Homo sapiens: one gene and its partner. The protein of the gene in region 2 interacts with the protein of the main gene of each other region in a pairwise test. Each region holds a gene or a part of one and is shown on either strand. Other genes may lie near its edges.

Region 1 (3,503 bases), on a different chromosome or scaffold from region 2:
GAAAAGTTCATATTGTCACAGATTCCTGTTCTTTCAAAAGAAGGCAAAATTCTTTTTGTTTTTTGTTTGTTTGTTTGTTTTTGAGATGGAGTCTCGCTCTGCTGCCCAGGCTGGAGTGCAGTGACTCGATCTTGGCTCACTGCAACCTCTGCCTCCCAGGTTCAAGCGATTCTCCTGCCTCAGCCTCCCAAGTAGAGTAGATGCGATTACAGGCACCTACCACCACGCCTGCTAATTTTTGCATTTTTAGTAAAGAAGGGGTTTCACCATGTTGGCCAGGCTGGTCTCGAACTCCTGACCTCAAATGATCTGCCCGCCTCGGCCTCCCAAAGTGCTGGGATTACAGGCGTGAGCCACCACACCCGGCCAAAATTCCAGATTTTTACACACAAATTTCTCCAAATGTTAAATGTTGGCAATTGACTAAATTTGTTTCAAAGACACTGATGGCAAAACCCAAACTCCCCAGCTCCACATCCTTGGCCCCAGAGGTCTTGCCCGCTGATCCCTCCTGCCCCATCAGCTTCCCCTCAGCCCCCCGCCTGCGATCACGCGGGCTCCGTCTTGGAGCCTTCGCTCCCGCTGGGGGCTCATCCTGAAGCTCCTTCACCACACAGGTGAGTAAGCACCAGCCCATCCCCCGGCACCCACCCAAGTGGCCCAGTGGTTTGGTCATGGACACGCACGGCCCCCCAGCAGGAGCAGGAAACAGTGCCCTCCCTCTGGCTGGGAACACAGAGCTTGAGTGGCAACTTCACGACTTTTATTTGTGGTGCCTGTGCTTTATCTCGAAAATACCTTCTCCCCCTGCCCCAGACAGTGGGCGGGGAGGGGGCAGCAAAAAATAGAAGACGTCCCTCCCTATTGCACATGGACCCTATATACAGGCCCACCTGGCTGAGGCTGGCGGGACTCTTGGCACATTCTTGGATCCCTGCTCAGGAGGGGAGGGGTGACGGGGTGGCATCACACGTGAGATGGGGACCTCCAGGCGGCCACTCTGGTCCTGGCTACTGATCCTTGCACTTCTTGGTCCTCAGTTCCTTCCTGGTCCCGTCTCTGGCCCTGGTCCCCTCTGGCAACGTCCCCCTGCTTGGCTCGGCCTCCCACCTCCATCCTGGCCTCGGGTGGCCCCCTCGGCTCCTGGGGACTCTGCTCCCCTCCCAGTCCGGAGGTCCCAGGGGGGCTATGGCTTCTCTGAGACTTCCCCCGGAGCCCTGTCACTCGTGTTCACACGGGGGAAGGGGTGCGTGTGGCAGAAGCAGCTGTATAAATACGGGTGCGGGAAAGTCCCTCCGGGTCACTTGGAGAGTTTGCTGATGACGCGGATCAACGCTGCATTCTCATCCTTGAGGCGCTGGTTGTCAGCGCGGAGGTCAGACAGGGCCTGGGGGACGGCAAGGGTCAGCTGGGCAGCCCTGGCGGGTTGCACCCCCACCCACCCTCGGCCCTCTGCCCACAGCCCCCACAGCCCCCACCTTCAGCTCCTCCTCCAGCTCTGCGGCCTTGCGTTCCAGGGCCCTGCGCTCCTGGAATGAACAGGGAAAGTGCAGAAACTGAGTGAGGCTGAGGAGGGCAGGGGAAGGCCAGGGGCCAGCTGGGAAGGGCAATGTGGCTCCCTTGGTCCAAACTTAGGGATGTGAGGCTGGGGACGCCTCTGGCCCCCATCCCCACTGCCCCTACTCACGAATCTCTCCAGTTCCAGGAGGGCTGGCCTCTCAGCGAAGCGTTCTTGCCTCTGGTGAGGACACAGAAAGCACAGGGGTCAGCAGAAGAAGCCAGCACTGCTCTGAAGGGTCCTAGGCTCCTGCTGGGCACCCGCCCGCCCACTAGGCAGCCCACAAGCCCTTCCCCCACGGGCCAGGCCCCGCCACCGGCAGGCCCACAGCCCCATCCCCTCGCTCAGACTCCGCCTCCGAGATCTCGGCCCCGCCCCTCAAGTGAAGCCCAGCCCCGCCGGCACCCCCAGGCCAGGCTCTACCTCCCAGCAGTCTAAGCCCCACCCAGGCGGCCCTGCCAGTTCCCGTGACCCTGGCCTCGGCGCCCTTACCTGCGTGGCCCGCTCCAGCTCCACCTTGAGCTGCGCCAGCCGCAGCGTGGTCTCGGTCAGGGCCTCGCGAAGCCGCTCGTTCTCCCTGCGCAGCTCTGCATACAGCTGGGGGTCAGGTAGAGGAGGGTCAGGTGGAGGATGGGGCGATGCTGGGGGGGCGGGGAAGCCAGGAAGCTGGGCACCCAGCAGGCAAAGCCCCGACGGAGGGGTGGGATCGCACCGTCCTAAAGCCTCCGTCTGGCTCTTCCGATTCTGGCTCAGGTTCTGGGTTGAGGTCCCGCTGCCACCGCTGCCTGCGGGCCGAGGGGCCGCCCTCCAGGGTGCTGGGGCAGGGGAGGAGCGCGCGTCAGGGGCCGGCCCGGCCCGCACGCAGACCCCACCTCTCCCACCCCGCCCCTACCTGGACTCCTGGCTGCGGTCAGCCGGCTCCGCCTCCTCCCCCTGTGGGCAGGTAGACGGGGGTTCAATGGGTATGGGAGGGACTTTAGCGGGTATGGGAAGGGCTTTGCCCGCCCCCCGGCCCACCCTCTGCACCAGCTCGGCCCCACCTGAGCCCCTCACCTCCGCAGGCCCCCTCCACTCCTTTCCGACCTTGCGGTGCTCCCTGGCCGCCTGCGGTCCCGGACCCTGCCCGTCGGGCGCCTCTGCTGGGGGAGGGGCAGGAATCAGCCCAGGCACCTCCAGAGCCCCCTCTCGGTGCCTGGGTCCCCGGGTCAAGCCCCCAGGAAAGCAAGAAGACTATGGGAGAAACTGGATGATTCCCTGGGAATGACCTCCCCGAGAGCAGACCTCACCTCTCTGGGCAGGGCTGTCAGAGTTCTCCACTCCAGGGACGCGGGGCCTTCGGGAAGGGTCCTGTCGGGAGGGGGAGGCGAGTCAGGGAAGCAGGACATCCCGCACCACCCCACTCGCCCTCGCTGACCCCTCTCACCAGGCTCTGCGCCGGCTTCTCTGACTCTGGGGCCTTCCCTGCAGCCTTCTCTGCCTCCTTCAGGTCTGTAAGAGTCACACCCTGGCAGGGAAAGGGGACAGTCAGGGGACGCTGGGGTCAGGGCCCAGCCCCTCCTCCCTCAGACCCAGGAGCCCAGGCCCCAGCCCCTCCTCCCTCAGACCCAGGAGCCCAGACCCCAGCCCCTCCTCCCTCAGACCCAGGAGTCCAGACCTCCAGCCCCTCCTCCCTCAGACCCAGGAGTCCAGGCCCCAGCCCCTCCTCCCTCAGACCCAGGAGTCCAGACCTCCAGCCCCTCCTCCCTCAGACCCAGGAGTCCAGGCCCCAGCCCCTCCTCCCTCAGACCCAGGAGTCCAGACCTCCAGCCCCTCCTCCCTCAGACCCAGGAGCCCAGGCCCCAGCCCCTCCTCCCTCAGACCCAGGAGTCCAGACCTCCAGCCCCTCCTCCCTCAGACCCAGGAGCCCAGACCCCAGCCCCTCCTCCCTCAGACCCAGGAGCCCAGG
Region 2 (7,960 bases):
TCTACAGGAAAATTAGCAAGCAAGGTGGCACACTCCTGTAGTCCCAGCTACTTGGGAAGCTGAGGTAGGAGGATCACTTGGGCCTGGGAGGTCAAAGCTGCAGTGAGCCCAGATCACACCACTGCACTCCTGGGCGACAGAGTAAGACCCTGTCTCAATAGCAATGACAAAATAGATTCGTGCACTCCAACAGATACACAATTCCATGGGAGGCCCTGGAAACCTGTAGCATTCACACATTCCTCCAGATGAATTTTATTATCAATGATTAGCAGAAAAAGGGCGAGATGAGAGCCCAGCTCTCAGGTGTGGAGAACTGCTTGGCAGTTTCCCATCAGGTTAAACATTCACTTCCCAAAACTTAGCCATCCCTAGTCTTGGGTATTCCCAATAGAAATAAGTGCTTGGCCGGGCGCGGTGGCTCATGCCTGTAATCCCAGCACTTTGGGAGGCCGAGGCAGGCAGATCACGAGGTCAGGAGATCGAGACCATCCTCACACAGTGAAACCCCGTCTCTACTAAAAAAATACAAAAAAAATTAGCCGGGCGTGATGGCGAGTGCCTGTAGTCCCAGCTACTCAGAAGGCTGAGGCAGGAGAATGGCCTGAACCCAGGAGGCGGAGCTTGCAGTGAGCCAAGATCGTGCCACTGCACTCCAGCCTGGGCGAAAGAGCGAGACTCCATCTCAAACAAAAAAAAAAAAAAAAAAGAAAGAAGTGCTTATGTCCACCAAAGACAAGCACGAAGATACTCGTAGCATTATTCATAATGGCCCCAAACTGGAAACATCCTGAATGTCTATCCACGGGAACATGGACAGATAAATTGTAGTATTTCCACACAAGGGACTACCAGGCAGCAATGAAAAAGAATGAAGTACTGATATATACAGTAGCCGTGTGGATTGAATTTCACAGGCATACTGTTGAATGAGAAGAGCCAGGCATAGCTCGCAGCGGATTCCACTCATCTATGGTGATGGAGATCAAAATAGTGGTTACCTCTGGGTATCTGTGTGTAAATTCTGCTCCCTAACAGGACACAGGGAAAACTTCCCAGGATGGCAGTCAGAGCCACAAATCAAGACTTACCTGCATTTGGGGCTCACCTGAGCGGCCTTTTCTTGCTTGCTTGCTTATTTGCTTTTTTGAGATAAACAATATACATTGAGGTGTACACAATGCAGTGAAAAAAGCATACAGCCCAGTGAATCTTTACATGTTTACACTGAGTATTGAACTTCATGCAAAGTGCTGTTCTAGGCCCCTGGAAAGGGAAGCCAAGGTTATGAGACACAGACTGTGTCGGTATGGATTTCATAATCTGGTGGAGGAGATATTACAATACAAGGTGGAACGATGACTTTTCATCCATTCACCCATGGGGTGTTTTTCTTGTTTGTTTTGTTTTTTGAGACAGAGTCTCACTCTGTCGCCCAGGCTGGAGTGCAGTGGCACGATCTCGGCTCACTGCAAGCTCCGCCTCCCGGGTTCATGCCATTATCCTGCCTCAGCCTCCCTAGTAGCTGGGACTACAGGCGCCTGCCACCAAGCCTGGCTAATTTTTTGTATATTTAGTAGAGACAGGGTTTCACTGTGTTAGCCAGGATGGTCTCGAACTCCTGATCTCATGATCCGCCCGCCTCGGCCTCCCAAAGTGCTGGGACTACAGGTGTGAGCCACTGCACCCCCATGGGGTGTTTTTGAGCCCCTGCTCTATGCCAGGCACTGAACTAGACAGGGGAAATGGAGTAGCAACCAAGACCCCACTCTACCGTGAGGGTTTTGGAGAGGAGCGCAACTAATTGATTCTACCTCCTAAACATTTTCCAAATTCATTCCCTTGCCTCCCACTGACCCTATCCTAGTCAGGCTGCTACCCTCTCTCCTCTGCAGCTCTCTCAGTCCTTGCCCCTGATTCATTCTCCAGATCAGCAGCCCTTACCTAAGTGCTCAGCCGAAAAAAATTCAAAATTGATGACTGCCCCTGGCCCAGGCAGCTCCGGTGCTGGCCTGTGTGGGCTCAAATCTTCACTTGTAGGATCTATAATTGTGACCACAGGCAAGTTCCTGATATGTCCTGAGCCTCGTGTGTGTCTTCTATAAAATGGAGATGAAATAGTATTAACAACAAAAACCATACCTGTCTCCCTGAAGAGGCTAGGCTTGCACCATCCACTACTCCTCCCAGTGCCTCTCAATGCTGGTCACTCCTGCCTCTCTGAACTACCCAGTGATAGAAAGCTGCTTCTGTTCATGAACACACCCTTTGGTTTCAAGGCCTGAGACTCTATAATTGGTGCCCCAGTTTGACGTGTCTTTCCCTTCACCTTCTCTGGCTGGGTCTTACTCAGCTCCAGACTCGGCCTAGGCATTGCCTCCTCCAGGAGCCTTCCCTGAAGCTGCCTACGGGGCTGGGTGCCCCTGTGTGGGCCCCCACAACACCCCGGATTGAACTTCTCTGTCTCCTGTTTCTGTTTGTCTCCACTTGCTTGAGTGTGGGCTCCTGCCGGGCAGGCTGCCTCTGAGTTGCTGAATGAAACTCTTCTTTGCGCCCCTACTGTGGACCCCTCCAGTCCAGTGCAGGTGCTGGATGTGCCTACTGACCTGAGCAGAACATGCTGAGCACTTTAAGGGAGGTGGCCTTGAGGAATGGGCAGGACATCAAGAAAGAAAATATATATATATATATATATATATATGTATGTATATATATATTTTTAAACAAGTTGTACATGCAGACAATACTAAATTCAGCAGAAACAAAAGGGATTGCAATGAAAATTAAAAGTAGGTCACCTCTCAACCACCCAGCTCCCCTCCCCAGTGGCCACCTCTTCTATCAGTTTCTGAGTATTCTCTGCAGGGCAGAATTGTCAGTCTTCCGTCCCTTTTTTATTTTGCAAAAATTTAAAGCAACAGAAAAGTTGCAAGAATAGTACAATAAGGCCGGGCGCGGTGGCTCACGCCTGTAATCCCAGCACTTTGGGAGGCCGAGGCGGGCGGATCACGAGGTCAGGAGATCGAGACCATCCCGGCTAAAACGGTGAAACCCCGTCTCTACTAAAAATACAAAAAATTAGCCGGGCGTAGTGGCGGGCGCCTGTAGTCCCAGCTACTCGGGAGGCTGAGGCAGGAGAATGGTGTGAACCCGGGAGGCGGAGCTTGCAGTGAGCCGAGATCCCGCCACTGCACTCCAGCCTGGGCGACAGAGCGAGACTCCGTCTCAAAAAAAAAAAAAAAAAAAAAAAAAAAAAAGAATAGTACAATAAACACCTTTTGCCTAGATTCACCAATTAACATTATGCTACTTAACAAGCATTATATCATTTAATGTTCACATTAATTAATTAATGCCAATTTTGTACATGAGGTCACTGAGGCACCAGGCAGGTTAAGGGACTTGCCCGAGGCCACAGAGCTCCTGCCTGGTGGAGCTGGGCTTTCCCCCTTAGGCTGCCAAAGGACTTTGATCTGCCTTCCCACAGCTCCCTTTTGAGGAAAAGCATTTTCTTACACTAAGTTGAAATCCACCTCCCTGGGATATTTACCAGATGATCCGTGGAAAAGTACACAGCTCTGGAAGCATTTGCTACTTCTCCTCCTAAAACCTCCTCCATTCCCTGAGCGACAGCTGCTGTGGCTGCCACTACCACATGCTCCAATGTCACCTCCTCCGTGAAGGCTGGGTTAGCTCACCCCCCTGTTTAAAGACTCACCATGACTCCCAGCTGCCAGTGGGATGACATGTGCACGCCTGGGCTTGGAATACAAGGCCTGGGTGATAGAGCCCTCTTCCAATCCCTCTTGCTCCTTCTTCCCCTATCTCCACTTCCAGCCACACTCAACCCTCTCACTGTCCACTTAAACTTCCCCTCCTCCTTGAAGCCACCCGAATTTTTCTAAAGAGCGCATTTCTCCCCTCTCTGGGCTCCTGCAACCTTCTGCCTGAGCCTTTGACAGCCTTTTCCAGGTTGTCTTTTGGCCAGGAGGCTGGACAATGGAGGACGGGAGTGACAGCTCGGCCCCTTCCTAGCAGAGTGATCCTACACAAATTACTCCAGGTGTCTGACCCTTCATTTCCTCAAGCACATCATGGGGGAAAGAATGCCTAGCTCAGCACCTGGCAGAGAGTCAGCCTTCGCTCATCTCCCCTAATGGAGCTGACAGCTCTTCAAGTCCGCTGACATCTTCTCTTAGTCATCCCTTGAAATACTACCCGCTGTTACTTCTCTGCTCCTCAGTCTCCTCCTATGTAAAATGGGGATGAGAAAGGAGAGGTTGCGAACCTTTAATGAGCGAGCCCTTGGAGTATCCAGCCCTTCCCGACGCTAACTGACTCCTACGAGGGGGCCTGGTACACAGTAGGTGCTAAACTAATCCTCTCCGAGCTGGGCTTGGGGAAGATGCCTCCGTTGGGTGTACAGCGTGGGCGCGGGAAGGCGAGCCTGGGAGCGAGGGGGTTGCAGAGAGGCAGCCTGAGGTCGGCTCCGCCTTCCCCCGCATCCCCCGCCCGGGCCCTGCAGCTGTCAGCCCGGCCGGCCTCGGCGCCAGTCCACCAAACCTGAACGTCCCATGCCGGCGCCCCCACCTTCCCGGCCTGCACAACTTACCTTGCGCTCGGCGGCCCTCGGTCCCGCCCCCGACTGCCATTGGCCCAGAGGTTCCTTTGTTAGCGAGAGCGCGCCAACCCCATTGGCCGGTGGGGCTGCCGATCGCGTCGGGCGCGGCCCCGCCCCGTACGCCCCGGCACCTCCCCGCGCCCGGCCGCCCGCCCGCCCGCCCGCCCGCCCGCCCCCGTAGTGCGTGAGGCGCTCCGGTCCCATTTGCAGCGGCCGCGGGGCGCCGAGGGCAGCTGCGGCGGCGCGGACGAGCCGGGACGGCGGCGACCGGAGCCTGAGAGGCGGGCCGCAGCGGGAAGCAGCGGGCCCGAGGCCGCGTCCATGGGCCCGCGGCGGCCGGGCGGCGGCGGTGCGGGCGGGAGCTGGGCGTCGCGCGCGCTGTGAGGCCCGGGCGGCTCAGGAGCCTCGGCGCGTGCAGCGAACCGCCCGCCGGGAAGGAGGCCGGGCCGGGCCTGCGGCGGGGCCGGCGAGGGATGCGGCGCGGCCGCGCTGAGCCCCTAGCCCGCCGGGAGCGCCAGGCCGGCCAGGCCTGCGCCGCCGCCGCCGCCGCCGTCGCCGCCGCGCCGACCATGTCGGCAGCCAAGGAGAACCCGTGCAGGAAATTCCAGGCCAACATCTTCAACAAGAGCAAGTGTCAGAACTGCTTCAAGCCCCGCGAGTCGCATCTGCTCAACGACGAGGACCTGACGCAGGTGAGCGACTGGGGCCGGCCCGGACACCTCCGTTCTGGGAGCCGCGGGTCGGCGGCCGGGGCGCCGCCAAGGGCTGCAGGGAAAATAAAAATGGAGCAGGGAAATGCGCGAGTCCTGGGGCATGGGGACGGGGACGGGAAGTGCATTGACAGAGCTGGGACAAAGGGAAAATCCTCGAGTATGCCGAAAAATAACATCCTTTCCCGTTCCCATTGCCCGGCTGTGTGATTCATGCTTTTTGGGTGACTCAAAAGTGCCTGGTTTCGCTTAGTAGGAACAAAGCGCTTAGGGATTGCATGCCGCTTGACGGGACCCCCCTGAGATTCTGGCTTGGGACTGGACTTGGATTTGTCCAGCCAGAGTGGCCCAGGGGTCGGATTGTTGGGGAGGACTGTGGGCTTCCGTCTAGTGGGACGCAGCCTGCCCCGATTCTGAATCATCGTCACTGTCAAGCACTGGAGAGAGGTGAAGGGGTGTCCAAATCTGGCGAGGAGGGTCTTGTTCTTGAACTTAGTTTGGCAGGCCGTAGTTTAGCGGGGAGCTGGGACCAGTTCCCTGGTCACTGGCCGAGGGGTGAGGAGACCTGTGGGTCCTCGGGAAAGTTGATTTCTGTCTCCCAGCCTTAACTGTCAAACAGGGCTTTGAACTAGTTATGACTCCCAAACGTGCATTAGAGTCATAGCCATTAAACACAGAGTTCTGGGGCCCCCGCCCTGGAGTGACTGGGGAGATGGGGAATTTGTATTGATGAAAGGCTCCAAGAGGCTTGGCTGCAGCCCCCATGGCCCTTGGGAACCCCTGCAGTGATTGCTGTTTGAACTCCTAGTGTTCCAGGATTCCGAGCCTTGTGTGCACCTCCTTGGGATGTGCCTCGGTACCCTCCCCACGGCCATCATCTCCATCCTCTTCAGAGCTTTCTCTCAGCCTCCTGAATGAAGCCAGGGGAAGTCCCTTCACATTCCAGTCCAGTGTGACCTAGTTGTAGCCACTCCTGTCGCAGAAGAACCCCTTAGACTGAAAACGAGTGAACGGGCCTGGTTGTTTTTAATGCCACTTCAGTGCACCCAGGGTTTGACTTGTTTACATGGCCGACTGGAGTAGGGTGGTGGGGCAGGGGTTACGGCCTGGGGCACGGGGCCTTTCTCTGAGGTCAGGTTTCCAACTGCCAGGAAAAGATTCCTTTCATCTAAACCCCAAAAGCTTAACGAAACACTCAAGGCTGCAAAGTCATAGATGGTTAAGATACCAAGGGTTTTAAGGACGGTCAGCTTGGGACGGATAGAACTCATTTACCTCGGAGGGTGTTTTGGAGTGTAAAGGAGAACTTGATTCCTTCTTCTCATCTGGATGCTTTTTTGGATGAAACAGTTTATGCGATGAGGAGTTGTTAGGAGACTTTGCTTCAGGTCTTGGCTGTCACTTCCAGCTGTGTGACCTTGAACAAATCCCTTTACTTCTGTATCTTTTAATTTCCTTATCTGTAAATTGGGAATCCTGGTCCCTGGCTTACCTCCTTCACTGAGCATTTGTGAAAAGCAAGAAATGATATTTTATGAAACTTTTTTCTCTTACAATTTAACAAACCAAAAAAACCTGCCACTTTAAGAAGTTTCTGGGCAAGGGTTGTTCTGAGAGAGGTTTGTAAGTTTCCTGGTTATTCTAAGCAACTGTCAAAATTGGTAAATTTACACCTCATAGGGGCTGTTTTCGAATTCTTAAGCTTAGATAAACTAGGATGGAATCTGCATGTTTGAGTCCAATCTGCTAAGATTTTTTTTAATCTGTTGATTATTAATTGGATTCACGGGGAGAGGCAAACTTAAAATACTGTACTCTCACTGTATTCAAAGTTGAATTGTGGGTTTTGAAACAGGCCTGAGACCTTCAGGGCACAACTGGAATGGTAGTTTCTGAAATAATGAGTGGGGTTATTTGTGCTGGGAGAGGTTAGCCCAGCATTCTACCTCCTGGGATCTTTCAGGAAGAAACTGCTCTTGAAAAGAGAGGAGGGAGACTCAGGGCTGTTGCCAACAGCCTTCTCTGCTGCTCTCTGCATCCGGCCCTCCCTCTCACTCTCATCCTTATGGCTCCATTAGAAAACCTCAACCAATCGGTTCCCATCAGTCTCCCCCAAGCCCCTGCTTCCTGCTGCCCCTCCCAGCCTGGAGCTTATTTTAGACCGTCAAAGCTGGAAGATACATCAGCCACCATCGAGGCCACTCCCTCCTTAAGAGGAGAGGATACTGGGCCCAGGGAGGTGGTGGGCAGCCTTGGCCGGCTTTTGCTCTGGAGATGTCATCTTCCCAGGAGCAGACATTTCTCTGAGCCTTTTGGTTTGAGGTTTATTTCCTCAGCTGTGGGTTTTGTTTGTTTGTTTTTCCCCTAGAGAGGCACAGAAACCTCTTGCAGGGACTGTATTATGGCATCAGACCTGGAAGGGACTTGGAGATCAGCTAATGTAACCACTTCCTCTTACCGGTGAGAAGATTGAAACCCAGAGAAGGGAAGTGACTTGCCCAGTTCAGGGATGGAGCCAGGATTCTGAAGCCAATGTTAGTTCCCCTACTCCTGTTCAGGGTCTACAGTGGCCACACCATGAGCACATGATGAGGACAATAATGTCAGGGATAGTTATGTTGCAGGAGGT

The links.
Region 1: the proteins of MPRIP (region 2) and PPP1R12C interact in a two-hybrid assay, tested with the Homo sapiens proteins (one study listed by BioGRID).

Annotation. Positions count from the first base shown.
Region 1 is NC_000019.10:55,090,172-55,093,674, forward strand, and holds the end of PPP1R12C (protein phosphatase 1 regulatory subunit 12C), read right to left. Parts: intron 3,063-3,503; coding exon 2,982-3,062; intron 2,906-2,981; coding exon 2,845-2,905; intron 2,698-2,844; coding exon 2,612-2,697; intron 2,492-2,611; coding exon 2,451-2,491; intron 2,374-2,450; coding exon 2,271-2,373; intron 2,156-2,270; coding exon 2,051-2,155; intron 1,739-2,050; coding exon 1,688-1,738; intron 1,530-1,687; coding exon 1,479-1,529; intron 1,388-1,478; coding exon 1,301-1,387; 3' UTR 747-1,300; downstream 1-746. UniProt on the Homo sapiens protein: Regulates myosin phosphatase activity.
Region 2 is NC_000017.11:17,037,659-17,045,618, forward strand, and holds the start of MPRIP (myosin phosphatase Rho-interacting protein), read left to right. Parts: upstream 1-4,798; 5' UTR 4,799-5,094; coding exon of another isoform or gene 5,095-5,190; coding exon 5,191-5,313; intron 5,314-7,960. UniProt on the Homo sapiens protein: Targets myosin phosphatase to the actin cytoskeleton. Required for the regulation of the actin cytoskeleton by RhoA and ROCK1.